6 linked regions of the Homo sapiens genome follow. Changing the gene in region 1 together with any one later gene gives a genetic interaction. Each region holds a gene or a part of one and is shown in the gene's direction. Other genes may lie near its edges.

The links.
Region 2: changes in RTF1 (region 1) and SEC22B together harm fitness more than expected from each alone (negative genetic interaction), as found in Homo sapiens cells (one large-scale study listed by BioGRID).
Region 3: changes in RTF1 (region 1) and MED12 together harm fitness less than expected from each alone (positive genetic interaction), as found in Homo sapiens cells (one large-scale study listed by BioGRID).
Region 4: changes in RTF1 (region 1) and RUVBL1 together harm fitness less than expected from each alone (positive genetic interaction), as found in Homo sapiens cells (one large-scale study listed by BioGRID).
Region 5: changes in RTF1 (region 1) and EXOSC9 together harm fitness less than expected from each alone (positive genetic interaction), as found in Homo sapiens cells (one large-scale study listed by BioGRID).
Region 6: changes in RTF1 (region 1) and DCTN2 together harm fitness more than expected from each alone (negative genetic interaction), as found in Homo sapiens cells (one large-scale study listed by BioGRID).

The regions. Positions count from the first base shown.
Region 1 is NC_000015.10:41,471,962-41,477,290, forward strand, and holds part of RTF1 (RNA polymerase-associated protein RTF1 homolog), read left to right. Parts: intron 1-2,658; coding exon 2,659-2,741; intron 2,742-3,563; coding exon 3,564-3,651; intron 3,652-3,750; coding exon 3,751-3,858; intron 3,859-4,484; coding exon 4,485-4,562; intron 4,563-5,203; coding exon 5,204-5,325; intron 5,326-5,329. UniProt on the Homo sapiens protein: Component of the PAF1 complex (PAF1C) which has multiple functions during transcription by RNA polymerase II and is implicated in regulation of development and maintenance of embryonic stem cell pluripotency.
Region 2 is NC_000001.11:120,169,134-120,174,462, reverse strand, and holds part of SEC22B (vesicle-trafficking protein SEC22b), read left to right. Parts: intron 1-5,329. UniProt on the Homo sapiens protein: SNARE involved in targeting and fusion of ER-derived transport vesicles with the Golgi complex as well as Golgi-derived retrograde transport vesicles with the ER.
Region 3 is NC_000023.11:71,135,242-71,140,570, forward strand, and holds part of MED12 (mediator of RNA polymerase II transcription subunit 12), read left to right. Parts: coding exon 1-12; intron 13-1,039; coding exon 1,040-1,414; intron 1,415-1,637; coding exon 1,638-1,788; intron 1,789-1,945; coding exon 1,946-2,142; coding exon of another isoform or gene 2,143-2,151; intron 2,152-2,316; coding exon 2,317-2,394; coding exon of another isoform or gene 2,395-2,484; coding exon 2,485-2,702; intron 2,703-5,329. UniProt on the Homo sapiens protein: Component of the Mediator complex, a coactivator involved in the regulated transcription of nearly all RNA polymerase II-dependent genes.
Region 4 is NC_000003.12:128,112,712-128,118,040, reverse strand, and holds part of RUVBL1 (ruvB-like 1), read left to right. Parts: intron 1-5,020; coding exon 5,021-5,153; intron 5,154-5,329. UniProt on the Homo sapiens protein: Possesses single-stranded DNA-stimulated ATPase and ATP-dependent DNA helicase (3' to 5') activity; hexamerization is thought to be critical for ATP hydrolysis and adjacent subunits in the ring-like structure contribute to the ATPase activity.
Region 5 is NC_000004.12:121,813,304-121,818,232, forward strand, and holds the end of EXOSC9 (exosome complex component RRP45), read left to right. Parts: coding exon 1-77; intron 78-562; coding exon 563-744; intron 745-2,046; coding exon of another isoform or gene 2,047-2,069; exon of another isoform or gene 2,070-2,345; intron 2,346-2,840; coding exon of another isoform or gene 2,841-2,891; intron 2,892-3,065; coding exon 3,066-3,144; exon of another isoform or gene 3,145-3,468; coding exon 3,469-3,553; 3' UTR 3,554-3,718; downstream 3,719-4,929. Other genes in the region: CCNA2 (cyclin-A2), read right to left, coding at 4,335-4,383, 4,741-4,874. UniProt on the Homo sapiens protein: Non-catalytic component of the RNA exosome complex which has 3'->5' exoribonuclease activity and participates in a multitude of cellular RNA processing and degradation events.
Region 6 is NC_000012.12:57,536,028-57,541,356, reverse strand, and holds part of DCTN2 (dynactin subunit 2), read left to right. Parts: intron 1-2,832; coding exon of another isoform or gene 2,833-2,838; intron 2,839-3,009; exon of another isoform or gene 3,010-3,104; intron 3,105-5,329. UniProt on the Homo sapiens protein: Part of the dynactin complex that activates the molecular motor dynein for ultra-processive transport along microtubules. In the dynactin soulder domain, binds the ACTR1A filament and acts as a molecular ruler to determine the length.

The DNA.
Region 1 (5,329 bases):
GGTCTTGGCTCACTGCAACCTCCGCCTCCCGGGTTCAAGTGATTCTCCCGCCTCAGCCTCCCAAGTAGCTGGGACTACAGGCGCATGCCACCACACCTGGCTAATTTTTGTATTTTTAGTAGAGACGGGGTTTCACCATGTTGGCGAGGCTGGTCTTGAACTCTTGACCTTGTGATCCACCTGCCTCAGCCTCCCAAAGTGCTGGCGTGAGCCACCGCACCTGGCCTATTTTTATTTTTATTTATTTGTTGTTTTTTTTTTTCAGACAGAGTTTCGCTTTTGTCGCCCAGGCTGGAGTGCAATGGCACGATCTTGGCTCACTGCAACCTCCGCCTCCTGGGTTCAAGTAATTCCCCTGCCTCAGCCTCCCGAGTAGCTAGTGTTACAGGCACCCGCCACCGTGCCTGGCTACTGTTTGTATTTTTAGTAGAGATGGGGTTTCACCATGTTGGCCAGGCTGGTCTTGAACTCCTGACCTCAGGTGATCCACCTGTCTCGGCCTCCCAAAGTGCTGGGATTATTGACATGAGCCACTGAGCCCGGCCTTATTTTTAATTTTTTGTTTTTTATTTTTGGAGACAGAGTCTTACCCCGTTGCCCAGGCTGGAGTGCAGTGGCACGCTCTTGGCTCACTGCAGCCTCTGCCTCCTGGGTTCAAGCGATTCTCATGCCTCAGCCTCCAAGTAGCTGGGACTACAGGCATGCGCCACCACGCCTGGCTGATTTTTTTTTAGACTGAGTCTCTTTTTTTTTTTTTTTAGACGGAGTCTCGCTATGTGGCCCAGGCTGGAGTTCAGTGGCACGATCTCGGCTCACTGCAAACTCTGGCTCCCAGGTTCACGCCATTCTCCTGTCTCAGCCTCCCCAGTAGCTGGGACTACAGGCGCCCGCAACCACGCCTGGTTAATTTTTTGTATTTTTAGTGGAGATGGGGTTTCACCGTGTTAGCCAGGATGGTCTTGATCTCCTAACCTCGTGATCCGCCCGCCTCGGCCTCCCAAAGTGCTGGGATTACAGGCGTGAGCCACCGCACCCGGCCTCACTTTGGGATTTAAAAAAAAATTTTTGTAGCAACAGCCTCTCTCTGTTTCTTATGCTGGTCTCAAACTCCGGGCCTCAAGTGATGTTCTGGCCTCAGCCTCCTAAAGTGCTTGGTGTTGGTTTTTTGTTTTGTTTTGTTTTGTTTTTTTGAGACGGAGTCTCGCCCTGTCATCCAGGCTGGAGTGCAGTGGCGCGATCTTGGCTTACTGCAAGCTCCCACTCCTGGGTTCACGCCATTCTCCTGCCTCAGCCTCCCGAGTAGCTGGGACTACAGGCGCCCACCACCATGCCAGCTAATTTTTTGTATTTTTAGTAGAGACGGGGTTTCACCTTGTTAGCCAGGATGGTCTCGATCTCCTGACTTCGTGATCTGCCTTCCTTGGCCTCCCAAAATGCTGGGATTACAGGTGTGAGCCACCACGCCCGGCCCAGGTGTTGGGTTTTTTTTTTTTTTTTGAGACAGTGTCTTAACCATGTTGCCCAGGCTAATCCGGAACTCCTGGACTCAAGCCATCTTCCTGCCTCGGTTTTCGAAAGTGCTAGGTTTGCAGGTATGAGACACTGTGCCCAGCCTGTTTGAGATAGGATCTCGCCCTGTTGCCCAGGCTAGCATGCAGCGGTGTGATCAGAGCTCATTGCAACCTTGAACTCCTGGACTCAAACGATCCTCCTACAACAGCCTCTTGAGTAGCTAGGACTGTAGGTGCACACCACTATGCCCAACTAATTTTTTTTTTCTTTTTTGTAGAGACTGGGTCTCGGCTGGGCGCAGTGGCTCACGCCTGTAATCCCAGTACTTTGGGAGGCAGGTGGATCACGAGGTCAGGAGATCGAGACCATCCTGGCTAACATGGTGAAACCCCTCTCTACTAAAAATACAAAAAATTAGCTTGGCGTGGTGGCATGTGCCTGTAGTCCCGGCTACTTGGGCGGCTGAGGCAGGAGAATCACTTGAACCAGGGAGGCAGAGGTTGCAGTGAGCCAAAATCATGCCATTGCACTCCAGCCTGGGCGACAGAGCAAGACTTTGTCTCAAAAACAAAAAACAAAAAAAAAGAGAGACTGGGTCTCTCTGTGTTGCTGAGGTTGGTCTCAAATTCCTGGCTTCAAGTAATCCTCCTACCTCAGCCTCCCAAAGTGCTGGAATTACAGGCCTGAACCTCGGCGCCCAGCCTGGATTGTTTTTGTTTTGTTTTATTCTTGTCTGGTTTTTATGTGTGTTATCCCCTTGTATGAGGACCTGCAGCCATGCCATATCCTGAAATGCTTGGCAACAGAAACTGACCTACATGGTCTTCACATTTGGTTGATAAAAATCAACTGGTGAAATCCCAAATACATCCCTTGTAAGTTAGAATTAGTTGGAGGAAAAGCTTCCAGTGGGCCCCATCGGGCTCCTCTTCTGCTGGCACTTTCTCCTCCTGGGCACAAGGCTCCCTGTGCTTGGCCATCTGGATTCTAAACCTGAGAAACCTTTCTCAGAACCCCTGGCAGCTGTGGACTCTACTCAGCACTCTATCAGTTGTCTGCGTTCAGGTAGAGAGACGCAAAGGAAGAGTGTTGTGGAAAGCTCCGGAAGAGTCTGGTTTTGACTGGCGTCTCTGTCCTCTCACTTAGGTCGCTGAGATTACGGGTGTTGTGGAAACTGCCAAAGTTTACCAACTAGGTGGCACCAGAACAAACAAAGGGCTGCAACTACGGTAGGAGGCACTTCTGGGGTAGCTTCTGCTTCCACTTCAAACAGGCACTGGCTTTGGGGGCTGCTGTTCTCTCTGTGTGATGTTCCTTGTTACCATGAACGCTATGTATGCAATCCCCACAAGGTACACTTGGAGGGAGACTTGTATTCCATCTTTGTCTATAGGGAAGGTAGGATATTCTCTCCTCTAGAGGGAACCAAATATATGAAGGGGTAGGACACAGAGAAAGGAAATGTGTGGTTATGAGAGACCCTCCCAGAGCCTCGCTGGCATTTCCTTGGCAAGCATGTCCAAGAGGCTTGCTTCTGGTTCTGGCTCTATGTCATAACCTCATCTGTGACAAGAAAGATCATTTTTATGGACTTCATTTCCTCTTCAGTAAAATGAAAGTGTCATTCACTCAGCAAATATTTACCGAATGTACAGTGTGCCAGGCACTGCTCTAGGTGCCATCATAGTGCACTGCAGCTTGGAACTCCTGGGCTCAGGTGATCCTCCCACCTCAGTCTCCTGAGGAGCTGTGACCACAGGCATGTAACCCTGTCCCAGGCTCTGTTGCATATTGTTGATGTTGACTGTAATGGATTTTATTGTAAATTGACTTTTGAAGCACTGACCAAGCCCATTTGGTTTCCAGTGCTAGCTTTGGGATCTCAATCTTGGCAGCTCATTAAAACAGCCTGGGATGATTTTATAGGGTAGCTAGGATTGAGAACCACTGCAATAGGTATATATAGGTGGTACATAGTCTGGTAAGGTTGCTTTGCTTGTACTACAGTCAACATGCACATTTCTTGGAGATGCTGTCTCTCTTTTATGTAGGCATGGCAATGACCAACGCGTGTTCCGTTTAGAGTTTGTCTCAAACCAAGAATTCACCGAAAGTGAGTTTATGAAGTGGAAAGAAGCGGTACGTGGCTAGAGATTACCTAGCAGTTGTTCGTGCACGTTGAGAAAATATCTTTCCAAAATCCCTTACTAATAATCTCGTATCGTGTTTTTGATCCAGATGTTCTCTGCTGGCATGCAGTTGCCCACTCTAGATGAAATCAATAAAAAGGAATTATCTATTAAAGAAGCTCTTAATTATAAATTCAATGATCAGGACATTGAAGAGGTAAGAAAACTGGTGCCCCAGAACCCGGAGGTTCATCAAGAACCAGTGTTGAGAGAACATGATTCTCTTTTATTTCCCTATATCTTGACATTTTTAGCTATGCATGAAAATGAGGGAATACTAATATTACTACCTGATTATTTATAGTTCATCAAGCTTTTTTCTATACATTCTCATGTCCGGATGAGGCTAACATAGACTGAAGTGTATTCAGAGTTCAGATGAGACAACAAATGAGGCTACATACACTAAAGTGTATTTAGGGTTCAGGGGTCTGTATTCTGCTAGGCTTGATCCTTCAAGAGTTTTCCTTTTCTAAAACATCTTGGTAAAATTATTTGATCTCTGTTCTCTTGGACAGTGGCTAGCCTTACACTACCAGGCCCTTGGGCTGCTGTTTCTTGGTGCATGTTCCTTCAGCCTGTCCCAGAAGAATCTCCGTGACCCAGGAAGCAGCATAGTATCCCTTGGAATGAACCCGCTCTCTCTCTCTCTGGGGCATGACACTGCTGTAGGAAGAGCAGCCCCTTTGTAACTAGCTGTTTGCATCCAAAATGGGCTCACTTAGCCTGTCTACAAAAATAGCTTAGGAATACCTCACTGCTGGTATCTCCTCTCTGGTACAGATTGTAAAAGAGAAAGAAAGGTTCAGAAAAGCTCCACCCAACTACGCTATGAAGAAGACTCAGCTACTGAAGGAAAAGGTAAGGAGTTGTACTCGAGCCTCTTTCCTCATCCTGTAAGGAGATGTGGAAATCAAACTTGTTCATCCTCTGCCAAGTTAGTGGTGGTAGGATTGGGAGAAAATTCTGGGCTCGATTATAAGCAACACAGTGTGTTCTTGGCACCTGGGCAACGTTCCTTGGCCATTTTCCATTCCCTAAATTCAAACTCATCTTCTGCGTGTGTGCCAGTCTTCTTACTTTCTAGTCACTTCAGTTTCCTTTGTAATAAAATAGACCCTGGGGTGGTATTTAACACTGAGTCTGAACAGACAGATGACACTGTCAAGGCCACCTGTGGCTGGTGATTTTCCATTCTTCACACTGGGTTGGGGTGGGCCTTGTTATGGTGGTTTAGCCACCCTGTGAGGCCTGGGGTTCTACTGCCACCAGGGACCCACAGCCAGGTAGCTGTATGGGAAGGTGTTCCCCACTGTACTGTGCACTACTATAATATAAATTATATCTTGTATTTGTAAAGTACTTCTACAGTATTCTTCCACATCTCCTGTCCTTTGCTCACCACATGAGATATCTTTGCCTGTGCTGGAAGTAAGGGGATACTTGATATGGAGTCAGTTGTATGTAGCCAAGAACGAACTCACACATCTCTCTATGTGTAGGCCATGGCTGAGGACCTGGGGGATCAGGACAAGGCCAAACAAATCCAAGATCAACTGAATGAGCTGGAGGAACGGGCAGAGGCCCTGGACCGCCAGCGGACCAAGAACATATCCGCTATCAGGTGT
Region 2 (5,329 bases), on another chromosome or scaffold:
CACAAATATTTTTGTGATTGTAGTGCCATAGTATTTTCCTTTAGGAATTTTGACTTTGAATAATAAAGTTTGCCTAAACTTTTAATGTCTGTAAAGATCTGAATCTTAGGCTTACTTTTACTATTTTAATAGTATACAGAACATTTATAAAAGCGCCTACTACATACCAAACACTGTGCTAAGCCTATTAAGTTCATTTTTTTATTTAATCCTCATACTACCATATTAGAACAGGTACTATTAAAATCTCCAATAATAGATAAGGAAGCTCTGAGGCTTAGAGAGGATAGATCACTTGCCTAAATTCACAGCTAATGAGTGGCATAATGAAATTTTTCATCAGGGTTTTTCCCCTTGGCACTGTTGACATTTGGGGATGGATAATTATTTGTTCTTGGGGACTGTTCTGTATATTGTGTAGGAGGTCCAGCAATATTCCTGGCCTCTACCCTCTAGATGCCAGTAGTACCACTACCCTTCCCCACTTTGTTTGTTTGTATGACGACAAAAATATTTCTAGACATTGCTAAATGTCTCATGGGGGCAAAATCACCCCAATTGAGACCCAGTGGTTTTTATTAAGTTTTTGTCGACTCAGACAAAAACTTAATAACCACTGTACTTTAGTGCCTAACCACTGTACTTTACTGCCTTGTTCTAAGGCCTTTTAATGATGTCTTACCTCTTAGGAGTCCAGGAATAACTTTTTAATAAACAGATATCTCAACCAAACAGTTTTATATTTAATCACCTTAATTGTCCAGGCCAGATAATTCAATGTATTTTCATTTTTGTATGTTTTTGTTTTCTTATCAGTGTACTTTCAGTATTTACACTGATAATAGATATCATATTTTAGGTATTTACTAGGTGCCTGTACAAGCTGCCATATTACCGAAGATGGACAGTTATTCAGATAATACAATAGAGAGTAAAATTTACAAAATAATGTAGACAGAGTATTTTATACAGGGTGTTTCCTCTGTGTTTAACTGAAAATTTAGACTTAGGGCAGGAAGAGAGATGAGCTTTTCTTCTCAAATGTGGACTCCCTAACTGATACCCTGTTTATCTTTTTTCCTCATTCCTTTTATGGCATGTTTCTCCTTTTAGGATTTTTGCAATTTCTTTATCTACCTTTCTGTTCTGCCTCAAAATTATTGTATTTTCTTTCATTTTCCTCTGGCATCGTGAAGGGCAGTCCAGACTTGAAGAAAGTGTTAGATCTCACCAAATAGGCAGCAGGAAGCTCCAAGAAAGCAGATAGATAACATGTTATACAGTTAAATTGTCTCACGCTCCCAATCACTGAGGGTTGATTAATCCACTTACTGTAACTGCTTTTAGAGGAAAGTGGTTGGTTCTTGGTGCTGCTGGTCTTTGACCAGCTGAGTTCAGTGGGTATTGATACCCACTGAACTCAGCTATGAAAATGATAAAGAGCTATGAAGGCAAAAGTTGTTATTGATACAACTAGTTGTTCAGCAGTCTTAGGTGACAGCAACGAAAAGTATTGTGGTTGTGTGTCTAGTTACTACCTTCTATCTTTTGTAATATATAGATCCAAATCCTACATTTGCTGTTGGATAACCTCAAATTTGTTTCACAGTTTTTCCAGTTATTCTGATCCACTGCATTATTGGATTACTAATAGATATCTCATAATTATATCATATACAAATTTCATTAATCTTTTCTAGATGAAGTAGAAAACACAATGAGGATATCTAAATATTTTTAGGTGGACTGGCTAACTGTGGGCCCTTTGTGACTTTGATCTTGAAAGCAAACTAAAGGTCAGTATGTAAAACAGTGGTTAGGTTGTTTTGTGAGATCTAGATCAGAGCTGCCCCATGGTTTCTTGAGCATTTCCAATGAGTTAGAATTACATAGTAAGACTTCACCTAAAAGGTGGATCTACTATTGAAACAATTTCAATTATAGAGTTAGGGTAGCATAATGCTTAGGAGTAGGGGCTCCAGGGCCAGATTGCCTGCATTCAGATCCTAGTTCCTCCCTTTTTAGCTTAGAGGCTAAAAAGTTTGACTTCTCAAGTAAAAAATTGACATAATAATTCTAATCACCTCATGAAGAATAAACGAGTTAAATAATGTAAAGTGTTCAGAACAGTGGCTGGCAGAAAGTGAACACTTAATAATTTCATTTGATCATTTCTGAAGAATCTTTTCTAATTCCATCTTGCCTTTCTTTTTTTTTTTTTTGAGATGGAGTCTCACTCTGTTGCCCAGGCTAGAGTGCAGTGGTGTGATCTCAGCTTACTGCAACCTCCGGTCCCCAGGTTCAAACGATTCTCCTGCTTCAGCCTCCCGAGTAGCTGGGATTACAGGCACCTGCAACCCTACCCGGCTAATTTTTGTATTTTTAGTTGAGATGGGGTTTCAGCATCTTGGCCAGTCTGATCTTGAACTCCTGACCTCATGATCCACCTGCCTTGGCCTCGCAAAGTACTGGGATTACAGGCGTGAACCCCCATACCCAGCCTCATCTTGCCTTTCTTAAAGGTTCACAGATCAGAATTGCACATAATCGATACACTGGATGCAAATATGTAATGAATGAATGATTTTTCACATTACAAAATTAATTTGTGCATATTGTAGAAAGTTCAGTAAATACATAAAAGCAAAATGACCAAAATGTTAACAGTGTTTATTAACTATAATCTGTACTCAAATTATATCCATTTTGGTGGATGACCTTAAACATATGTATGTGTGTATAACATTAAATAATAGGTAATACCGTAAGACTGTTTCACCTAATTTTTTCCACTTAACAGTGTTTAATGAATATTTTCTCATATCATTAAACTCTATACAGCATTGTTTTAATGGCTGCATAGTATTCCATTGTATGAATATGCCAGAAAGATTATTATTTAACCATGAAGATTGTGCTAGCATTGTGTTCTCGAGGATGGTAATGCTAACTGAACCAGCATGGTAAGGTGTTGGTTGGCATACCATAATCCCTATAAATACATCCCCAGTGTTGTATATTGGCAGTCTTTACATTGCTGTTTGCAAATTCCTGAAATTGCAGAATGCTTTTGGCCAGTTTCTTATAGTTGATACAGTTGTTAGTCTTTTTCTCAGGTTACAGTAATGTTTACAGTGCCTCTTGTAAAGTCAAAGGATTTGTACCAATCTGAGTGGCAATTTTTTCCATGTTTCTTCAACTAGTCCTTTTAAGATTCTCACCTGCCTTTAGCAAAGAACATATATTTAACACCTGTGGTTGCAGTTATGTAAAAAATACCGATATCACAGCCCCACCTCCGAGATGCTGACTTAATTGGTTTGGTGGTGGAGACTGGGCATAAGTAGTTTTGTTTTTGAGATTTCCCCAAATGATTCTATTGTGAAGCCAAGGTTGAAAATCACCGATCTATGTTGATATTATTTCTTGGCACTTGAGCCAAGAAATAATAAAAATATTTCTTTTTTTTATTAAAGAATTTTAAATTAAATTAAATTTAATAAATTAATTTTATTAAATTAAAGAAATTTGCATGCTTTTTATCTACTCTTGTGGGTTCAGATCTCTTCAGAATGGCACTGGGGAAACAAAAAGATTGGTAAGTACCATTCAAATTTAGGAAAATAGAATATTGTGCACTAGTTCTTATTGGCTAAAAGCATATGACAGTATTCACTCTTACTGGCTGGCCATATATTAGTAGTACTGTTTAATATGATAATTTTGATATAATTATTATAAAGTACTGTTTAATATATAAAACTGTACATACATACAGACATACATATGTTAATATAGAACTATTTCTCAAATATATAACAAATATATGTCAATAAAACAAATAATTGCCATAACAGTGGTATTAAACAAGATAAATCTACAAACTAATACCTCAACTGGACTCTGCCTATCTCCCCTGGTTCACCTCATGCTTATTCACCTTCTTATTCTTATTGAAATTTCCAGTTCACCATTTTTACATATAGCTTAGAATCTTATTATCCTGTAATTGTACATTTGCTGATCTGCCACTTTATCATTTTATTGTTGCTTCCTTGTTTTTATTATCAGCTTAGCAGTACACTATCTACAATTTTAAGATATCACTTTGTACTTTATCAAAGTTAGACCTCAGATCCTGGGAGACCCTAGCATAAATACTTTTCTACTTAAATATTTAGTTATTAAACATCTGCCAAAGGGAGGCTATTCTTTCTATGTAAAATAAATAATTCCAAAATAGGATTATTTCTTTGCATCACATGGCAGTGTCCTAGTCTGGTTTACTATACAAAATACCATAAATTGGGTGGCTTATAAATGACAGAAATTGATTTTTCTAGTTCTGCAAGGTGAAGATCAAGCACCAGCAGATTTGGTGACTATTGAGGGCCTATTCCTGGTTCATAGATGTCACCTTCTGGCTGTTTCCTCACATGGTGGATGGAGCAAGCTAGCCCTCTGGGGTCTCTTTTATAAAGGTACTAATCACATTCATGAGGGCTCTACCCTCATGACTTAATCACCTCCCAAAGGTCCCACTTCTTAATACCATCACTTTGGGGGGTTAGGATTTCAACATGAATTTTGTGGGGGATACCAGCAAACATTCAGACTATAGCTGGGTAGCTGGCAGAAAGCTCCCCTACCCCACATGTGGATGGAAAAACAATGTCTATTTGCTTCCCATTCTTCAGGCACTTCCTTTCCCTGTTGGATCTAGTAGATTGGAGATGCATGGTTTTCTTCTTTTGAAATGACACTGCTGGTTTTTCCAGTAGATTTGCCCCCTCTTTTTAACAAAAATAATTGTAAAAGCAGTTAGAAATTGTTCAGGAAAATATTACCTGTAATTATAACATGTGAATGCTATTATTTTCATTTTTGTCTGCATATATCCCTCGATATTCAAACTTTTGCTGTCCAAACTTGGGAACCAAATAGATTTCTTCAGTAAAGGGTATCTGACATCCTAATCTTTGTCTCTACCCTTGGTCATTTTTATGTAATTGCAGTCAAAGTGTTCGTAATAATTTGCAGTCACTAGTACACACATTTAGTTTTGTTTAAATGCTAAAAACTGTAACACTTGTGGAAGGTTCTGCTGGATATTCCAACATAAAAATGAAATTCACCAATCTTGTTCCTAGGATATTCCCCTGAGTATAGCACATGCTGTGTAGTTCTGTGCCAATAACTGCAAATGAAATGGGTTAGGAGGAGAGTACTGTCCTAATAGTGGAAAGAACACTGGATTGAAAGTTAAGAGTGCTTAAGTGTATTTGAGGTATATGCTTTTGCTTCTTAGCAAATAACTAATGCGATCATC
Region 3 (5,329 bases), on another chromosome or scaffold:
TTCAAGAAGGAGGCATGTTCCATTGTCTGCCCGTGTCCCTTGCCTTTTTTCCCCTTTGGGCAAGAACTTTGCCTGCATCAGCTTTGTAGCTCCAACAGACTCATCAGATTCAGGAGCCCATCAGTCTCTGCCGGTGAACACCATCTCTGGGGTTTTGAGCAAATCACTTAACTTTCCTTACATTTCATCTCCATCTTTGAAGTCCCACCCTCTTTCCTTCACCCTGCCCTCACCTTTTAACATACCACCCATTTTTCAATACCCTACCCTCCTCTTTCCTCTGCTCCACCTGCCCCATGTCCTACCCCACCCATCTATCTGGCCGACAGCCTGTATCTCTTTTATTTCTGTGTTTCCCTACACCCACCCATCTCTGCACACTTTTATCTTTTCCCTCTCTGTCAGTTGCGGTATTTGTTGAGTAACCATAATTATTGTGTATAGTTTAAAACCCAAAGTCTAACTCCTTCATATATACATTCTCTTCATCTGTCTTCCTAGTCCATCTGTCTCTTTTCCTCCGTCTCTGTCTCTCTCCCTGTCTGACTCGTTTGCCTTTCTTTGTCTCTCCACCTTTTTGTCTCTCTCTTCCTGTTTCTTTCTCTCTCTGACTCTTTCTCGGCCTGCCTAAAGGCAGAGTCTCTCCCTGCCTTCCTCTCTCTCTTTCTCTGCCTTCCTTTTTCTGTCTTCCTCTGAATGTCAATCCCTCTCCCTCCCCGCTCCCTCTCTGGCTTTCTCCCCAACCCCTTTCTCTCCCGATCTTCTCTCCCCACACGCCCCCCGCCCCGTTAGTTCATCTCCTCTCCTGGTCTGGGCTGGCTTCATCTTGTGCCTCCACACCTCTCCCTGTGCCCCACCCTTCACTCTCTCCCCGCATAACTCTCTTCCGCATGTATATGTGTATCCATGTCTGTCTGTCTGCTTCTTACCATCTCTCCTGAATCTGCCTATGACTTTCTTTCTACCCATTCCTACAAATGCTTGCAGTCTTCTGTTTTCTAAGTCCCAACAGCTTATTGTTTTTCATTTTCTGGAGCAGGGTCTACAGGTTTCCACCAAACAGAAGATCTCGCCCTGGGATCTTTTTGAGGGGTTGAAGCCGTCAGCACCACTCTCTTGGGGCTGGTTTGGAACAGTCCGAGTGGACCGGCGAGTGGCTCGAGGAGAGGAGCAGCAGCGGTTGCTGCTCTACCACACACACCTGAGGCCCCGGCCCCGCGCCTATTACCTGGAGCCACTGCCACTGCCCCCAGAAGATGAGGAGCCGCCTGCTCCTACCCTGCTAGAGCCTGAGAAAAAGGCTCCAGAGCCCCCCAAAACTGACAAACCGGGGGCTGCTCCACCCAGTACTGAGGAACGCAAGAAGAAGTCCACCAAGGGCAAGAAACGCAGCCAGCCAGCTACCAAGACAGAGGTGAGCGCCTCCCCCGTGACAGTTCTCCCACAGCCTCTCACTTCATGACGCTCCGGTTTCTGGTTTGTGGGAGGGGTGGGGGCGCATAAGGAAGGGGTGCCATTAGAATCATAATAAAAATTAACCATATACGAATTCAGCTCCTCTTTACCTCATTCTCCCCCAGCTCCCCGACCCCATTCAGCTACAACCCACTCACCCTCTTCCTCTGCCACTCACACAGGACTATGGAATGGGCCCGGGTCGGAGCGGCCCTTATGGTGTGACAGTGCCTCCGGACCTCCTGCACCACCCAAACCCTGGTTCTATAACACACCTTAACTACAGGCAAGGCTCCATAGGCCTGTACACCCAGAACCAGCCACTACCTGCAGGTGAGTGCCAGCCACTAGGAATGCTGGAGGGACCTACCTGTACACTCCCCCTGCCCAAAGGATGATGCCATTCCCCTGAGGAGCTATGGATGTCAAGGACACTGAGCAAGAGACAGAGGGATGAGGAGCCTAGAGGTCAGCCCACTCTCCTTTTCAGGTGGCCCTCGTGTGGACCCATACCGTCCTGTGCGCTTACCAATGCAGAAGCTGCCCACCCGACCAACTTACCCTGGAGTGCTGCCCACAACCATGACTGGCGTCATGGGTTTAGAACCCTCCTCTTATAAGACCTCTGTGTACCGGCAGCAGCAACCTGCGGTGCCCCAAGGACAGCGCCTTCGCCAACAGCTCCAGGCAAAGATAGTGAGAGGGGCAGTAGGGAGGGCTGTCAGGGAGAGGGGCTTTTGAGGGTCACAGGACGGAGGAGACACTTGGGATCTTCACAAGGACACTCAGGGTGGGAGACACAAGAGATGAGATGGCAGCAAGCATTTCCTGAGTTTGAGTTGTTCTCTTTTCTCCCTTTAGCAGAGTCAGGGCATGTTGGGACAGTCATCTGTCCATCAGATGACTCCCAGCTCTTCCTACGGTTTGCAGACTTCCCAGGTAAGAGCCTGGGATTGTGAGACTAGGGGGATGAGGCAAGCTGCTCTGCATACTCTCGGCCCTGATTCCCTCTCTCCTTCTTCCCTCCAGGGCTATACTCCTTATGTTTCTCATGTGGGATTGCAGCAACACACAGGCCCTGCAGGTACCATGGTGCCCCCCAGCTACTCCAGCCAGCCTTACCAGAGCACCCACCCTTCTACCAATCCTACTCTTGTAGATCCTACCCGCCACCTGCAACAGCGGCCCAGTGGCTATGTGCACCAGCAGGCCCCCACCTATGGACATGGACTGACCTCCACTCAAAGGTACCCAAAGTAGTGGTGAGCTAGGAAGAGATGCAGAGGTATAAGGGAGCATTTGACTTGGGAAAGCCTGTGCCTGAAAGTGGTGGGACTGGTCAGAACTTTCGGAGACATCAAGAATACTTATCTGGCCACATAGCCCATAACCACAGAAGTCTCGAGCTGGAAGGGACCCTGGAGACCAATAGTTTCATGACTACTTCCTTAACAGTTCTTTGAGGCCCAGAGAGGGGAAATTGTTTATCTGACTCAAGGAAAAATCTGGGCTGGGTGTGGTAGCTCACACTGGTAGTCCCAGCACTTGGGGGCCCAAGGTGGGAGAATCAGTTGATTCCAGGAATTCGAGGCCAGCCTGGGCAACATAGGGAGATCCCATCTCTACAAAAAAAATACATATTTTTTTGAAACAGAGTCGCACTCCATTTGCCCAGGCTGGAGTGTCGTGGCATGATCATGGCTCACTGCAGCCTCGACCTCTGAGGCTCAGGTGATCCTCCTACCTCAGCCTCCCAAGTAGCTAGAACTACAGGCACACACCACCACGCCCAGCTAATTTTTTGGATTTTTAGTTGAGATGGGGTTTCGCCATGTTGCCCAGGCTGGTCTTGAACTGAGCCACCACACCTGGCCAAAAAAAAATTTTTTTTTAATTAGACAGGCGTGTTGGTGCATGCCTGTAGTCCCAGCTACTCAGGAGGCTGAGGTGGGAAGATTGCTTGAGCTTGGGAGTTTGAGGCTGCAGTGAGCTGTAATCGCACAATGAGCCGAGATTGTGCCACAGCACTCCAGTGGTGACAGAGTGAGACCCTGTCTCAAAAAAAAAAGAAGAAAGAAAAGAAAAAGAAAAAAATATCTGGAGTTCATAGATGAACTACATGATAAGGAGTCGTAAAGCCAGTACCGGCTTTGAATACCAGGTTAAATACCAGGATGGACAAATGAATGAATCCTCCCACCATGGTTAACGTTAGTCAAGCCTTAGTTGAGGCCTTGTAACCATGTATAGAGACTCTGAAGCTTAGGATTAAGAACACTGGGGAGTGGGCTAACTGCCCATTGTGTGGCCAGCACTATACCAGGACTGGGTGAGGTGAAGAAAGATAGCAAAAAAAACCCCCACGATACATAGTTCCTCACTACAAAGAATCTTTACTATAGCTGGGGAGATGAGACTTATAGAAGAATATTGAGAGAACACTCTGAGCAAAGATATAATCAGGTATGCAGTTGTATGCTATGAGGTAAAATGTGGATTGAGAAAAAGTACGTGGTAATATCTGTGGGCCTGACTCATCAGAGAATGTTTCATGAAGGAGGTCAGACTTGAGTTGGCCTCTGAAGAATAGCTGTGATTGGGATTTGTGGAGAAGAGGAAAAGAAAGGGCATTCCAGGTAGAGGATGTAACGTGAACAAAGACATGGGGACCAGAATGAGGATGGTGCCTGGGGAGAAGGGCCTGGATGGAGTGTAAAATCTGTGCTGGGGAAGTCACTGGGGCTAGGCTAGGAGGGGGCAGGCTGAGAGATGGCCTTGAATGCTCAGCCGAAGAATTGAGACGCAGTCCCAGAAAGGGCTCTTTTGATCAGAAGAGTGATAGGAGGAGTTGGGTATGTTGCAAGGTTCCTTGGAATGAATGGATAGGATGTGTACTGGAAGGTGCAAGAAGAAGACTTCAGGCCAGGCACGGTGGCTCATGCCTGTAATCCCAGTACTTTGGGAGGCCCAGGCAGGCAGATCACCTAAGATCAGGAGTTCGAGACCAGCCTGGTCAACATGGTGAAATCCCGTCTCTACTAAAAATACAAAAATTATCTGGGTGTGGTGGCATGTGCCTGTAATCCCAGCTACTTGGGGGGCTGAGGCAAGAGAATCACTTGAACCTGAGAGGTGGAGGTTGCAGTGAGCCGAGATCGCATCATTGCACTCCAGCCTGGGCAACAGAGTGAGACTCTGTCTCAAAAAAAAAAGAAGACTTGAGACGGGGAGCCTGGCCAGTAGACTCTTGAAGTGATATACACATGTGGTAGAACAACTTGAAATGTTATTTGGGAACAACAACAGCAACAGCAAAAAACCTCAATGAGTGTTTATAGAATGCCTATCTTGTGCTAAGACTATTTTTTTCTTTTCTTTTCTTTCTTTTTTTTTTTTTTTTTGAGATGGAGTCTCGCTCTGTCATCCAGGCTGGAGTGCAGTGGTGCAATCTTGGCTCACTGCAACTTCCACCTCCCAGGTTCAAGCAATTCTCCTGCCTCAGCCTCCTGAGTAGCTGGGATTACAGGCATCCACTACCACGCTCAGCTATTTTTTTTTGTATTTTTGCTAGAGATGGGGTTTCACCATGTTGCCAGGCTGGTCTAGAACTCCTGACCTCAAGTGATCCACCCACCTTAGCCTCCCAAAGTGCTGGGATTACAGGTGTGAGCCACCGCACCCAGCCCTATTTTTCATTTTTGTAACAGAAAAATAGCTAATGCAGAATTGAAAAATTCCTAACCATTAAGGTTATGAGACACTAAAATAGAGTATCATCTTATGCAACTTATTCCCCAGACTGGAAGTCTGGTTAGTGACACGAGGAATGAATGAAATAACCTGCTAACGTTTCTTTCAGGTCAGGGACCCAAGG
Region 4 (5,329 bases), on another chromosome or scaffold:
CATTCATTATGTTGCCCTTGTTTTGAAAAAGAGCTATGTTGGCTATATAATTCAGTTGACAGATATTTTCTTCAGTACTGTTTCACAGTACTTCTCTCTCAATGTTATTTGCTCCTTTGGCTTCTGTTGTTTTTGAGAAGTCTAATTTTGAGGGTTTTGAGTCTTCTTTCTGCATGTTTTTGAGATATTTTTGGGTTTGGTGTTTCACTATTATATGTCAGAGTGGATTAATTTTTGTTTATCATGCTTAATGCTAATTGTGCTTCTTGAATCTGAGTATTATGTCTCTGCTCAATTCTGGAAAATTGTCAGCCTTAGGAGAATCGCTTGAACCTGGGAGGCAGAGGTATCAGTGAGCCAAGATCATGCCATTGCACTCTAGCCTGGGTGACAGAGCAAGACTACGTCTCAAAAAAAAAAAAAACAAAAAAACTGTCAGCGTTAATCTCTTCAGCTATTGCCTTTCCCCATTCTCTTTGTTCTTTCCTTCTGGAACTCCACTGAGATGAGGTTAAGATTGCAGTGGTTTTCAACCTGGGGCAGTTTTGCCCTTGCAGGGGACTTTGACAACGTCTGGAGACATTTTTGGTTCTCACGACTTGGTTGGGGGTGCTACTGGCATCTAGTGGGTGGAGGCCAGGGATGCTACTAAACATCCTGTAGTGCACAGAGCAGTTTCCATAATAAGGAATTATCTGGCCACAAACGTCATGGAGTCAAGCTGAGAAACCCTGGGCTAGAGCTTCTCGTTTTGTCCTCTTTGTCTTTTAGCCTCTCATATTTGTTATCTTTTTGACTCTGCTAAATTATGGGTAATTTCTTTTAGATCTTTGTTCCAGTCTAATTGTCTCTTAAGCTATGATTAAGTGACTGATTAATCCAATCTATTGAATATTTTTTTCCTTTTCATTTTGAAAAGTTTGGAACCTACAAAAAACTTGAAAGAATAGTGTGATGAGCCCCTCTATACCCTATACCTAGATAGCCAGTTATAAATATTTTGTGACATTTGCTTTTTCTCTAGTTTATTTCTGAACCACTTGACAGTAAGTTGTAAGGATGTCTTCCTACATGACCACGGTGCCATCATCAGACCCACCTTGCTAATGCTATTATATTCCCCCAATTTTTGTCAATTAAAAATTAAATTAATTAATTTTTAAAAAATGAGCAGCAGAGCCAGGGAGAGAATGGTGTCTCAGGAACCAAGAAAGGAGAACCTTTAAAGAAAGGAGTAGGTAACCATATCCACTGTGGTAGAGAAATCACAAAGATGAGGGAGCCTGGCAGCTCATCATATGATTCCATGAGCAGTTAACAAATGTGCTTTCAAAGACAACGAAGTTAAATTGTTTTAATGAAAAGAAAATATAGGTGATAGAAATCAGAAAACATCTTTCCAAGTTGTTTCAGTTTTTGGCTTTTTAAAAAACACCAGAATATCAAAATGCAATCAAAGATTACACACTGCATAAATTGTTACAAGTTATAATGTCTTTTTTTTTTTTTTTTGAGATGAAGTCTCGCTCTCTTGCCCAGGGTGGAGTACAGTGGCGTGATCTTGGCTCACTGCAATCTCTGCCTCCCAGGTTCAAACGATTCTCCTGCCTCAGCCTCCTGGGTAGCTGGGATTACAGGTGCCTGGCTAATTTTTGTATTTTTAGTGGAGATGGGGTTTCATCATGTTGGTCAGGCTGGTCTCGAACTCCTGACTTTAGGTGATCCACCTGCCTTGGCTTCCCAAAGTGCTGGGATTACAGGCGTGAGCCACTGTGCCTGGCCCCCAGATGTATTTTGTTATGGCCCACCTTTTTTACTCATGTGTGGCCCTTCAAGAGTCCTCTTTTATGTTTTTTTTTTAATTGTAATGTTTTTGTTTGTTTGTTTGTTTTTTGAGACAGTTTCAGTCTGTCGCCCAGGCTGGAGTGCAGTGGTCTGTTACCCAGGCTGGAGTGCAGTGATCTCGGCTCACTGCAGTCTCTACCTCTTGGGTTCAGGTGGTCCTCCCACCTCAGCCTCCTGAGTAGCTGGGACTACAGGTGCACACCACCACGCTTTGGCTAATTTTTGTAGTTTTCGTAGAGATGGGGTATCGCCATTTTGCCCAGGCTGGTCTTGAACTCCTGGGCTCAAGCAATCCACCTGCCTCGGCCTCCCAAAGTGCTGGGATTGCAGGCTTGAGCCACCGTGCCCAGTCCCGGTTTTATTCAGGGGTTTCTATCTTAAGTGCTATACCTTGCTGAGCTTTCCTGTATCTACAGTCTCTGAACTTTCAAGGCAAATAGTTTACTGCTCTGAATGTTATTATTTATTCAATTCTAGGTGTTTTGTAAGAGGAGAGGTTTTCAGTGGACCCAGTGTGCCATATTGCTAGAAGCATATGTCTTTCATTTTTTTTGGTGATATTGTATTGCTTTCCTCCCAGGAAATATGAGAAGTGCTCAGCACTGTGGTATTACCTTATAAGTTTGTCCACTCCCTTCCAATGTGTATGAAGGAATTTGGTGACTTCTGCTTAATGGTTTGCTGCAGGGTCCCAAAGTTTAGGCAACTTACCTGGGTGACAGGCAGAAATACTGCTTATTTTAGAGATGCAAATGCATGGTTCATATGCATTTCCACTCTTGAGGACCTCACACTGTTAATAATGGGTTTGGGTTTTAGAAGAAGGAGATATTCAGATGAGATTGAAAAATAGAGATTTCTTCAACCTTCTTTTGGCAACAACCTCTTTTTTGTGCCACTTGTCACTCACATGGGGTGAGTACAAAAAAAAATGGCTTTGGAGATTGGGGTTTGCATCCTGGTGCTGCTGCTTGCGGTTTTACCTTGGGTGTGTTGGTAACTTTTGAGTTTGTTTCTTAATCTATAAAATACAAACTAGATGATCAAGGTCATAGGCTAGTTGGGGAGATTCGATGAGGTCTATGCAGCACTCTGTAGTAGGTGTAGGAATAGTAGCCATATCATATACTTTCCCTCTGGAAGTCTTTAAATGGAGGAAACGAGACACACATGAAGCTTTTTTTTTTTAACCAAGTATTTATCATATTTTAATGGAAGTATGTTCATCTCTTCTGTATTAGTTAAAGGGAGGGAGAGTGCCATTGAATTGGATGTGGTCACTGTCTTTGAAGTTCAAAACTGAGGGTAGGGAATTGGGGCTGGCAGAGATACAAGGAAGAGAAAGGAGTAACTGGGAAGGGGTGGTCCTGTCCAGCCTGTGGCCCCACGGGGAGTCTGCTGTTAGAGTGCTGCTCCTCTCATTGTGCCCTTTCATGTTCCAGAGATTTTTTTCCTTTGCTCTTAGAAGAATACCAGTTTTCAAGGTGTCAGCCTTGAGCTCACAAGTGCAGATGCCTAATGAGGCAGGCAACGGGGATGAGGGAAGTGGCTGGGTGCACTGTGGCGTGTCTGCCTTGAGCCCCAGGTGCTCGGCCTTGCTGAAGGTCACCATGAGACTGCAGGCCAAACAGAACCAGGCTGTGAGCAACGAGTTTGCCACTTGTGATCTAGCATGGCACTTTAGTACTTTCATTTGACAGATGAGGAAATCGGGCACCTGAGATTTGCTGAGTGCCCAAGGTCACACTGAAAATTAGTGGCAGAACCAGCACTAATCTTTCTGTTCCTGGCTAGTGCATTTTATACTGTGCTATACACTGATTCTCTACCAGATTTTACTACCTCAAAACTATCACCAAAAGGGCATAGAAAAGAAAATCTGAGAGGAACCTTGACTGTTAATTTTAAGACACCGTCTCAGTTTCACTTTGTTCTTCAGTAACAAGCTTGTTTTCAGTCTTAGCCCATATACCTGGGGAGCTGGCCTTACTCGTGCTCCTGTTTCAGAGTTGAGGAAAGATGAAAATGGCATTTAGAGGCCATGGCATTGCCCAGTTCTGTACCAACTTTAAAGCATTTGCTTGCCATACTTGACATTTGACCGTACACCTGTGAAGTCTGGTTCTGTTTAGCATTTGCCAGCTGTAATTATCTTGTCAAAAATCAATTTGTAGTTTACCACAGGGCGTGTTTAAGTGTAACTTGTTAAGACCAACTCATAGCTTCAAAATCCTACTTGAGGTATCCTTCTTCACTCTTTGTGGGCTACATAACATAAAATGAACAATCCATTCATTCATTCCTTCATTATTTCTGATGGGTTGTAGATTGGTGTTTTCCTGTATTTGTAAAAAGAGAAAGCAGGTATCTCAAAGATCCAGTGGTGTATTCGGAGCAATTAGGTCAGAGCCATATATTGATATTGAGAGAACAATTTTGGATGACTGTAAAGTTGGCCCTTCCTATCTGTGGGTTCCACGTATGTGGATTCTGCCAACCACAAATCAAAAATACTCAGGAAAAAAACAATAAAAAATAAAAATACAATAACAAAAATAATACATACTTAAAAATACAATATAATAACTATTTACATAGCATTTATATTAGGTATTGTATGTAATCTAGAGATGATTTAAAGTAACAGGAGGATGTGCATAGGTTATATGCAAATACCCTGCCATTTTATACCAGGACTTGAACATCCATGGATTTTGGTATCCCTGTGGATACTGAAGAGTAGACTCTTCTAATTATGATAACATGATCTTTGGAGTCCTGCTGCCAGAGATTAAATCTGCGCTGCCATTTTCTAGATTATGGTACTTACGTTGCATTACTTAATGTCTCTCAGTTTCTCATGTGTAAAATGGGGAGAATACTAGTGTCTATTTCATAGGCTGGTTGTGAGGATCATGTGAGGCATTTGGAGTTGGGCCTGCACTGGGTAAGTCTGAGTGAATGATAACTTGTAATTATAGGGAAGATAAGAGATGCCATTTATGATTTAAATTGACTGTCCACAAAAGTCATCAAACATTTATTGTGTGAAACATGCTAAATGGTAGGACTAGATGTTCAGCTGTTCCTAGTTCCTGGTGGTTCTGTAGCATGTGTTTCTGAACTGTCATGTTTTCAGGACTGTGAACTGTGTTTCCGTTGCTTTCTTTTGTAGACAGCTCTGGCTCTGGCTATTGCTCAGGAGCTGGGTAGTAAGGTCCCCTTCTGCCCAATGGTGGGGAGTGAAGTTTACTCAACTGAGATCAAGAAGACAGAGGTGCTGATGGAGAACTTCCGCAGGGCCATTGGTAAGTAGTGTCACATTTGTGGGAGGAGTTGGTCTCACTTCCTGAAGCCTGTGCACCGAAGCCTCTTTGTGGTGAAGATGCCTTTATGACTGGTATTCGTGGCACTGCTGTTTTTCTTTTGGCACTTAGTAGTGCATTATTTTTCAAATAAAACAAAACCCCAGTTTTTCTCATTG
Region 5 (4,929 bases), on another chromosome or scaffold:
AAGGCCCCTATTGATACCTCGGATGTAGAAGAAAAAGCAGAAGAAATCATTGCTGAAGCAGAACCTCCTTCAGAAGTGTATCTTTATTTGGTGGTTTTTGCAGTAACAAGATTCATAACACTTGGCATTATAATATTAGGCTATATGAAGGATGTGTATACTGAAATTAGTTTTTGTAAACACTGTACTTTGTTAGAGAAAACACTTAAAATACAAGATAGAGATGTGAGTCATATTCTGTTGATGGTATAACATTCAGCTTCTATTCAGTTATCCTGGAAAAAACAGATTTTAAGGACCAATTTAATTTAGTACTATAACTAAAATGTTGAGAGAATCTGTCTCTTCACATTTCTTATTAATTGCATCCATAAAATCTTGCCTGAGTTTTTTTTCTTCTTCATTGTTCAGCCATCCATAGTGTAGCTATATTAAGTTTTTTTTCCCCTAGGAACTTGGGGCACACTTGAATCAATCTTACAAGAAGAAAACTTTCATTCTCATCTTCAACAGTTCATCAAATAGCAATATTTTTGTTACTCAGTTTTCTTAACTTGTTAAGTGTTTCTACACCTGTGCTATGGACTCCTGGAACTGCCCAAATTGGAGAGGGAGTAGAAAACTCCTGGGGTGATCTTGAAGACTCTGAGAAGGAAGATGATGAAGGCGGTGGTGATCAAGCTATCATTCTTGATGGTATAAAAATGGACACTGGAGTAGAAGTCTCTGATATTGGAAGCCAAGGTAGGTGACACTTTATGGCACACTTACTATATATTACATACATATAGTATTACCGTATAGTTATATATATAATGCATAAAATGTGTGTATATTTATATTATCACTGTATATAGTAATATATAGCATATTAGCTATATAGAGATGTATAGTGGATAAATAACATACAGGATACTATATAGAGAGAATATAGATATGTAGTTATATATAGGGATGTAAGTATTGCATTTTTAGAGGGGCTAAATATTGTGATTTAAATTTCAACTAAATTATTGTGGCTAGCTGCAATACTAATGCTACTTTCTAAAAGAATATGCATATCTTTGTAGAGTAGTGGAACACTGGCATAAATGATAGTGATATTTTTAATTAAAAAAATTTTGTGTGTGTGTATGTATGTGGGTGGGTTTTAAGGGAATGAGTTTCTTGAAGATCTTATTCCTCCCTGCTGTCTTTTTTTTTGTAGTTTCTAGACTGAAACAAAAAGCCCATCCCATATCATAACATATAATACTGCCTAAATAAAACTTTCTATGATGATAGAAACATTAAGTATCTACACTGGTATAGCAGCCACTAGCCCCACATGGCTAGTGAACACTTGAAATGTGGCTTGTGTTACTGAGAACTGAATTTTAAATTTTACTTAATACAAAATTAAGCAGCCACATGTGGCTAGTGGCTACCATGCTAGACATCGCAGTATTAGAACATAAAAAAATTCTATAAGTAACTAGAATACTGGTAGTCCTAGACGTTTCTTGCATTCTGAAAGCCATAGAACTGAAGTTGTTATGTATGGTTATTTCTACTTTTTAAAAAAAGCAAATTCTTGCTGGTCTATATAATAGAATGACTTATTTTCTTACGTGGTAAGAACAGAAATCCTACAAGGAACTGGGAGCTAGGCTGGCAGGGAAAATTGAAGGTGATGTGTTTAATAGGAATGTAATGCAAATACTTCTGTTTTCAAAGAGAGAAATTATTGCTTATGAACATTACTGGAGCCTGGGCTTTTTGTTTTTTTACTTAAGTAAATAGGTAAGGAAAAAATTTCCCATTGATTGGGACCCTTACTCAAATTTCCCAGTGGTTACTTCTATTTGGTATTATTCTTCCAGAACTTGTTCCAGGTATTTATTTACTCTCTGTGCAGTGATGTAAGCTAATGCTGCATATACTTGTATAGCATTGAATATAACTAGTTGGTTTAACAATTCTCTTATTGTTGAAGATGTAAGTTGTTTCCATTTTCTCACTGTTAATATCCTTGCACTTGCATATACCTCTTATATGTTTGTTTAGTGTATTCTTCTAACAGTGAATAATATTTTCAACTGAATATAATGAAGGTGGACCTAAGCATTGGAAAAATGGAGCAGGTACAGCCTTCCTAAAGCATGTGAACAAAGGGAGAAACTAATTGAAAACTAAAAATACAAATAATTGATATGGGTTAATTCACATTTTATGTATATCATTAACTAATAAGCAGGAGAAAAATGGGCAAAATACATGGAGCAGTTCTCAAAGTATACAATGGCCAGTAATATTTTTCATGGTCAGCCCTGACAGTAATACAAATAAAATCCAAAGAAAAATGACATGGCATTTTTTGTTACTGTATTTTGGGCAGTATTAAAAACACCAGCAATGCCAAAGGTATATGGGAAATGGGTTCTTTTATTTCTTGGAATGTAAACTGGAACTATTTCTGGAGGAATAGAGTAGCACAAACAATTCAGTTGTCTCTACAAAAGATGCTATATACATTTCCCCCTAGCTTTTCTATTATGACATGTACCAAATTGTCACACCATTCAAGCACCTGTAGGAAATAAGAGTTTAAAGAAACAAATGTTACAGATGAGTTCTAGAGTGCTCTAAGAAGCTGATTTAAAGAAAAGATTAAGCCTCCACCTAGAGTTTTATTTTTATTTTTTGGGATGGAGTCTTGCTCTGTCACCCAGACTGGAGTGCAGTGGCACTGCAACCTCCACCTCCATGGGTTCAAGCGATTCTCATGCCTCAGCCTCGAGTAGCTGGGCCTACAAGCACATGCCACCACGCCTGGCTAATTTTTCTATTATTTTTAATAGAGCTGGGGTTTCACCATGTTGGCCAGACTGGACTCGAGTTCCTGACCTCAGGTAATCCACCTGCCTCAGCCTACCAAAATGTGGGTATTAAAAGTGTGAGCCACCACGCCCAGCCCCAGAAATAAGAGTTTAGAACGTCTGATAGAAATAAATTCATGTAGAAATAAATTTTGCAAGAGATTGCTTAACTTTTTTTTTTTTTTTTAAATTAATAAAAAAACAAAGATGCTCCCATAATACTCTCAGATAGTGAAGAAGAAGAAATGATCATTTTGGAACCAGACAAGAATCCAAAGAAAATAAGGTAACAAATTTCTGGTTTATTTCAAATGTATACATATACTCAACACTTATAGAGGTTTGCTCTCTGGTTTTACTCTCATCTTGCCACATGACTATAAACAAAAAGACATCCCTTTTTCATTAGAGATCCATCTGTTCTGTGATTTTTTTACCTTGTGATTTATAAAAATTAGGACCTAAATCTATAATATAAACTTCTTGGATGCCAGTCTTACTCATAGCTGACACATTTTAGATCCTACTGGAAAACTAAGAAATGCCTCTTATTTCAATAATCCAAAACTTAACATACTCTTAGTAAATTCTTACTTTGCTTTATTCACAGAACACAGACCACCAGTGCAAAACAAGAAAAAGCACCAAGTAAAAAGCCAGTGAAAAGAAGAAAAAAGAAGAGAGCTGCCAATTAAAGCTAACAGTTGTATATCTGTATATATAACTATTAAAAGGGATATTTATTCCATTCTGAGAACCCTGGGTATTTTTTATTCACAAATCCATTATAAAATCTAGCAGGATTTTAAAAATAGTTTTTTGTTTTTAATGTGCTTTAAAATAATAAACCTTCTGGAGCATTTCTCGTCTGTTAATTTGCATATAAGCTTCCCACCCTCTTCCACTCCCAACCTCTGTTGAGTTTACCTCGCAAAACCTAAACAAACAGGTTTTACAAAGAGCGAAAAAGTCTGGGGAATCTCTACTGTATCTATCTCTGAATACTGTATTCAGATATGCTTAGATTAGATTATGCCCAAGTCAGCAAATTGATCCAGTTGCTTAGGAAAATGAATGTCAGAATTTGAGGGTCTGTTTTCCTAAACCTACTTTAATTTTAGAGGAAGGCTTTTCACTTCCCATTATATAGTAAACCAAGTAAACTTCTTTACTAAGCAAAATCCTGAAGAAGTTAAATTTGACTTGCAAAGTTTTCCAAATCAATTTATTATCCTGACAGCTGGCATCATTAATACTTTAACAAAACCACTTAAAATTAGCCAAATATCTAAGACAGATACATATACAAAAGATATACAAATTAAAACCATTTAAAAAGTAATAGATACCATAATTTGTACTTGGCCACAACTTCTGTATTCAGAAATGATTGTAAAATTAAAACCTAAGTTAAAAACTGTACACCATATACTTTGAGTGATTTACATCTTAGAAAACAAAGGCAGTCTTTCATTGTTACAGATTTAGTGTCTCTGGTGGGTTGAGGAGAGAAACACCATGATACCTGTAAGTAGGGAAAAAAAAAGCATTTTTAGTAAACACTCACTGGGTAAAGGAGATCATGGAATAATGTTTGTACTCATGTATTGGGAACTAAAAAATGCTATTTCTGTCTGACCGACTTGATGGTTTTAGAAACACTGTCTGGTCCCTGAAACACACATGCATGCCCCCTTCCTTCTCTCTTCTCCCCCAGACCCAGGGCAGAAAGCATGAACTACAACCTTCTTCAAACACATAACCAATTTAGAGAACAGCTTCTCAAGGAGGCTATGGCAGATTCATGAATAAGGTTAAAATGTCAAAGATCTCTGAACCATAATCTAGAAAAGTAAGCTTCAATATCCAAGTTAATTCTTACTTTGAATTTTTGTACTTTTCTCTTATTGACTGTTGTGCATGCTGTGGTGCTTTGAGGTAGGTCTGGTGAAGGTCCATGAGACAAGGCTTAAGACTTTCCAGGGTATATCCAGTCTTTCGTATTAATGATTCAGGCTACAGAGAAGGGAATAGAGAACCCCTGAGTTTTGCTTTTAGTAACACACCAAAC
Region 6 (5,329 bases), on another chromosome or scaffold:
CATTCAATGCTTCTTCTCTGCATGTTTTTTTCATCTGCCATCTCGCATGCAATGCTCTGCCACTGTGCTATTGTTGTAGCTAATCGTTTTAAATTCCAGTGAGTCCCTGGCTGGGTCACTGAGGGGCCTGCTGGCCTTATGTTTAAAGATCATTAATCAAGGGTTAGAAACAGCTATGATCCATGAATCATTGTCTCTTCCCCTTGTGAGGTCTGCAGAGTAAAACTGTCCAGTGGAGGATGGGATAGAAGCATGGAGGCTTTAAATGTTTTTGAACATGAGGCATTTAGGGGCTGGAGTTAGAAGGCAGTTTCCTTTCTCCTCCTCAGACTAAGATCAAATGAAGATTTTTTTATGGAATGACTTTTAGCTATTCTAGACAAGGATAGAAAACAAAAGGGATGACAGCCACAGTCCTCAGTTCTTGGCTGTATGTGGATTATCTCTGGGAAAAACTCATTTTAATATTCCCCTATGCTAGGTCTTTAGAGAAATGTAAATGGGATGAGAAGGAGGTTTATATGCAATTGTAAGATAACTTGGATTATTTGTGCTTTTGTGAGTCTTTCTGTTTCTGCACCCCTCCTTTTGAAATGGATGGATGGTCAGCAATATATTGATCCATCCCGGACAGTTTTACTCTACAGCTCTGTCCATCTTCCTTGTCATCATGGTTTTGAAGTACCCTGGCTGCAGTGTTGGCGTACAGCCTGAATAGGCTCAGAGAGTAACAGTGGCCACTTTCCCTGTCTGATTTAGAACCTCAGATCTTGCCCTCTGAGGCACAGCCACTTAGCCAAACAGCCCTGGGGGGTCTGGGAGTCCCTTAGTGAAAGAGACTGGGAGTCACGTACTAGGTAAGCTGGCACCCGGGGCCAGGGCACTTGAAATCTTCCAATCAAGGTGACTAGTACTACTCCAGGTTATGCAGGAATCATGCCTAAAATCTCATCAACCTTCAACCCACCCATAGGACAGACCTGGAGGTGGTATATACTATCTGCAAACTAATATACCACTTTTCCTTTTATTTGATTTTCTGTCCTCCCTATTCTGCCCAATCCGCATGGTTTGAAATTGAGCTTATGGCCCATTGTCTTCTTTCTCTCCTTGAGTTTCTCCCAAGCTGGTTTTAGCTTGGTGGGACAAATCAGAGAAAGGTATAGTGTGTGTACTTCTCCTTTGTGTTTGCATGTTTGCACTTATGGGTGCTTACACCCACTCTATGCAGAGACATCCCAGCCTCGACCACAGGATCTGGAGCCACCTCTACCCTGAGCTGAAAGAGGAATTTTTTTTTTTTTTTTGAGACAGTCTCACTCTGTCACCCAGGCTGGAGTGCAGTGGCATGATCTCAGCTCACTGCAACCTCCGCCTGCCGGGTTCAACTGCAACCTCCACCTCCCGGGTTCAAATGATTCTCCTGCCTCAGCCTCCCGAGTAGCTGGGATTACAGGCGTCCACCACCATGCCTGGCTAATTTTGTATTTTTAGTAGAGATGGGGTTTCACCATGGTGGCCAGGCTGGTCTCGAACTCCTGACCTCAAGTGATCCACCCACCTCGCCCTCCCAAAGTGCTGGGATTACAGATGTGAGACACCGTGCCTGGTGGAAAGAGGAATCTTGGCTGGGACCCTAGCATCGTCTAGGGAACAGAGAGGTTGTGATTAAGAGGTATCTGGATGAAATCTTGGTGAAAGGAAGCACTTGTTTTTAATCCCACCATGGTTTTTCATATGCATACAACCATCCTCAACCATCTGCCCATCAGCAGAGCTCCTAGAAAGGCAGGACATACCACTGGATATCCCCTTCTGGCAGTTCTAAACCAGCCTTGCCCGGAAGTGGGAGCCTTATCTATGTGGCCCAGACTCAAATAAGGCCTCTTGGAAATACTCTCACCCTTCCCCTTTGTTTACCCTCCAACCCCTGTGAATCTTGTGAACAGAGGGTTGAAGAAACATGTTCTGCACATGTGCTAGTACCTGTGAATCTTGATGTCCCCTGGACCCTCTGTGTAAGTACATCATGGCAGAATTGCTCTAGATCCTTCGGAGCTGCAGGGTGAGTTACCAGCCACTCAAGGTGGAGGCAAACATGCCAGGCTGCACAAGGGACCAGGAGCAGCTCTGCCTCTTCCCTTGCAGGAGGAAATGAGAACGGGGCTATACTTAGGTACTTCATCATTCCTTTAACTCACCATCTGTACCTGACATATTTTGTTTTGTCTCACCTAAAGTCATATCAGACTTCCTACCTGATCACTCTCATTGTGACTGATTCTGCCATCCAAATGTCTAATTTTTCACAGCTAGAGAAACTAAGAGATAGGAAGACAAGGGCCATGAACTAAGAAGGGGAACTCCTCTCCTGAGAATTATTGACCCTCTATCAGCTACAAGTCTAAGAATTTCTAACTTCTGCTTCATCTTCTACCATTTCTAATAGCTTCCCCACCACCTCAGCCTTCTCTCCCCAGTTTCTTATTCCATGCCACTGGCTGGTAACATCTAACTCCTAGTTTTCAGATGATCCTAAACTGCTGCTGTTAATGGCAAAGCTTCATGACATCCTCACCACCAGAGGGAAAAGGGTCTCATGCTCTTCTTTCTCTTGGGGTATATGGTGACCCCAGCTGAAATTTCTTGGCCCCTAAATTTCGCTAGGCTCCCCTGGGGCCCTGTGGTGCAGTGTGTTGGAAGACTGTCATGTAGTGCATGTGACAATTTGCTAATAACAATTTTGTCTTTTTTTTCCCTCCCTCATCCCCATTCCCCCACTCCCTTTCCTTTTAACTCTTTTGATTTTCTCACCTCTGGGGAAACCACAAGGAGCTGGTAAGAAGCCTGACCTTTCATCTGCTTTTTAACGGGGTGTGCTATGATGAGCAGTTGTTTCTCTGTCCTTTAGACTCTACTAAATCTTTCATTCATCTATTCAGTCCCACACCCAGCCTTTTCCTATCTCACAAGTCACTGTAATTATACTGCCCCCAACTCATGCCCCAGATCTTCAAGACACTGCTGGAGTAGGTGCTACTGGAGGACTAGAGTGTGCTCCCGGGCCACAGCCTTGGAGAGGCTCCAGAGGATGCCAGCGCCAGGTAGCCCAACTGGCCCAGGACACTCTCCCACAGCAGGAATGAAAATGCTCTCTGTCCCTGTGACTGTCCAGAACCTCTGAGACTCACCGTCTATGTGTTGACCCTCTTCTACTCCCCGCTTTCCCTACTTAGGAACGTAAATAAGAAAGTAGGTTCCATCTGCATAGTGCCCGCCCATAATAAGGGCTTAACAAATGGTAGCTATGATTAATTTTTTTCCTGGGTCTGTAGGTTATGCCTCCCATTCCTCTTTTTTAAGAGGATTAAACAAAAGAGGATGGGTGGGATTGGCCTGGATTGGGGCTTTCACAGGGAGAAGTGGCATATTCCTGAGTATGAACTTCAGAGAAGATGGTTGTCTATCCTTAGCCTGAGCCCTTCCCAGTTGATAAGAGGCCAGAGATCACACAGCTATTAGATGGGTGGGTGTTCTGGCCGTAACATTTCAGAACAGGTTAAAGAGATAATCATTTGGGACTCAAATGTCTCTCCCCCCGGGCACTTGCATATGGGACATTGAGTCCTTTTGTTTTCCCTTGATCTATAGCTCTTACCCCTCTGCCCAGTAATTCCCTGAGGAAGAGGTAAAGATCAAAGTTGATACTTTGTCCTTTCCTTCCTTCTTCCCTTATTTTTAAAGCTGTCACCCACACTGATTCCTGCTCTAATAGCAGAGCAGAGATGAAGGAAGGAGCTTCCTTCTATCTGCTTTTCTTTCTCAATGATGTCCCACCATGTCCCCCTCACACCCTCTCCCCACATACCTACACACAGGCAGAGATTCTCAGTCCTGGCTGTAGGTTAGAATCACCTGGATATCTGGCCCTACCCCAGAATAATTCATTAGAATCTCTAGAAGTGGGCCCAGGCCTTTTTTTTTTTTTTTTTTTCTTTTCTCTCTCTCTCTTTTTCTTTTTTTGAGACAGGGTCTCACTCTGTTGCCCAGGCTGGAGTGCAGTGGCATGATCTCTGCTCACTGCATCCTCCACCTGCCAGGCTCAAGTGACCCTTCCACCTCAGCCTCCTGAGTAGCTGGGACCACAGGCACGTGCCACAATACCCAGCTATTTTATATTTTTTGTAGAGTTGGGGTTTCCCTATGTTGCCCAGGCTGGTCTTGAACTCCTGAGATCCACCCGCCTTGGCCGAACTTTGGGAGGCCGAGGCGGGTGGATCACTTGGAATTAGGATCCTCCCAAAGTGCTGGGACTACAGACAGGCTTGAGCCACCATTGCCCGGCTGTCTATTTAAAAAAAAAAAAAAATTATAAGTGATTCTAACATGCAGCCTGGGGTGAGAACCATTGTTCTAGGTGAAAGAAGGAAGGCTCATTTTGCCTTCCTCCCATAGAAGGTAGAGATGTCATCCCCAACAGAAAAGGACTCCTGGGTCTCCCTCCTACTTCCATCAGTACTCTGTTGGGAGCTGTCAGGCTTCTGACAATTGAAAAAGGGACATGCAGTCAGGAGTGCTTGGTGCAGTCTTGGTGTTGTCACTGGAATCTGAACAGCATGTAGATATCTAGTAAGGAGGGAACCTCTCTGCTTCAGTTTCTAGGGTGAAGTCTCTTTCACCGCCTACTTGTGTCCCCTGTTTTTGGAAGAGCTTCAGTGCTTAAAGCATAGCAGAGGAGTCAGGGAGAAAAATCAGGTGCTGCAGCGTCTCTGAAGAGATGCTGGTTTATCTCCATTTCAGAGCTTACATGTGGCTCTTGCCCATGGATACTCTTGGCAAGCAGATATTGCCTATGTTTGTTGCTTCTAAGATGTCCCATAAAGATAATCCAGTAAGCCCTTGCCCCTTCTCCCTGTCCCTGAGTTCGCTGGCCTCATGGCAGCCTGGAAATCAGGCTTCTGGTCAGGCCCTCTGTCGGCCTTCTTTTTGTACTAAGAGCTTGTGTCTTACCTTCAACAGGTTTAAAGTCCTAATATTCACACTCAGTGTTAGTGGCCTGATTATCTGCCTTCCCTCCTCTTTCCTTCTAGCAAGGATGGGAGGTTAGCATTAAAATGGACTTGCTCAGCGGGCAAGATTTACTTTTGGGAGGGGGAGGTTAAAAGAGGTCAGGTTGGTTTCTTGCCTTGAGTGCATGGCGTGTGCCAGACAACTGGGAGGGGTAGCATGGGGGGATGGGAAGGCTTATGTACAGAGAGGGTGGGGAGGTTATGCTCCCTCTGCTCCCAGTTGAATGAGGGTGTTAATATTTATACAACTGAGGCTCCAA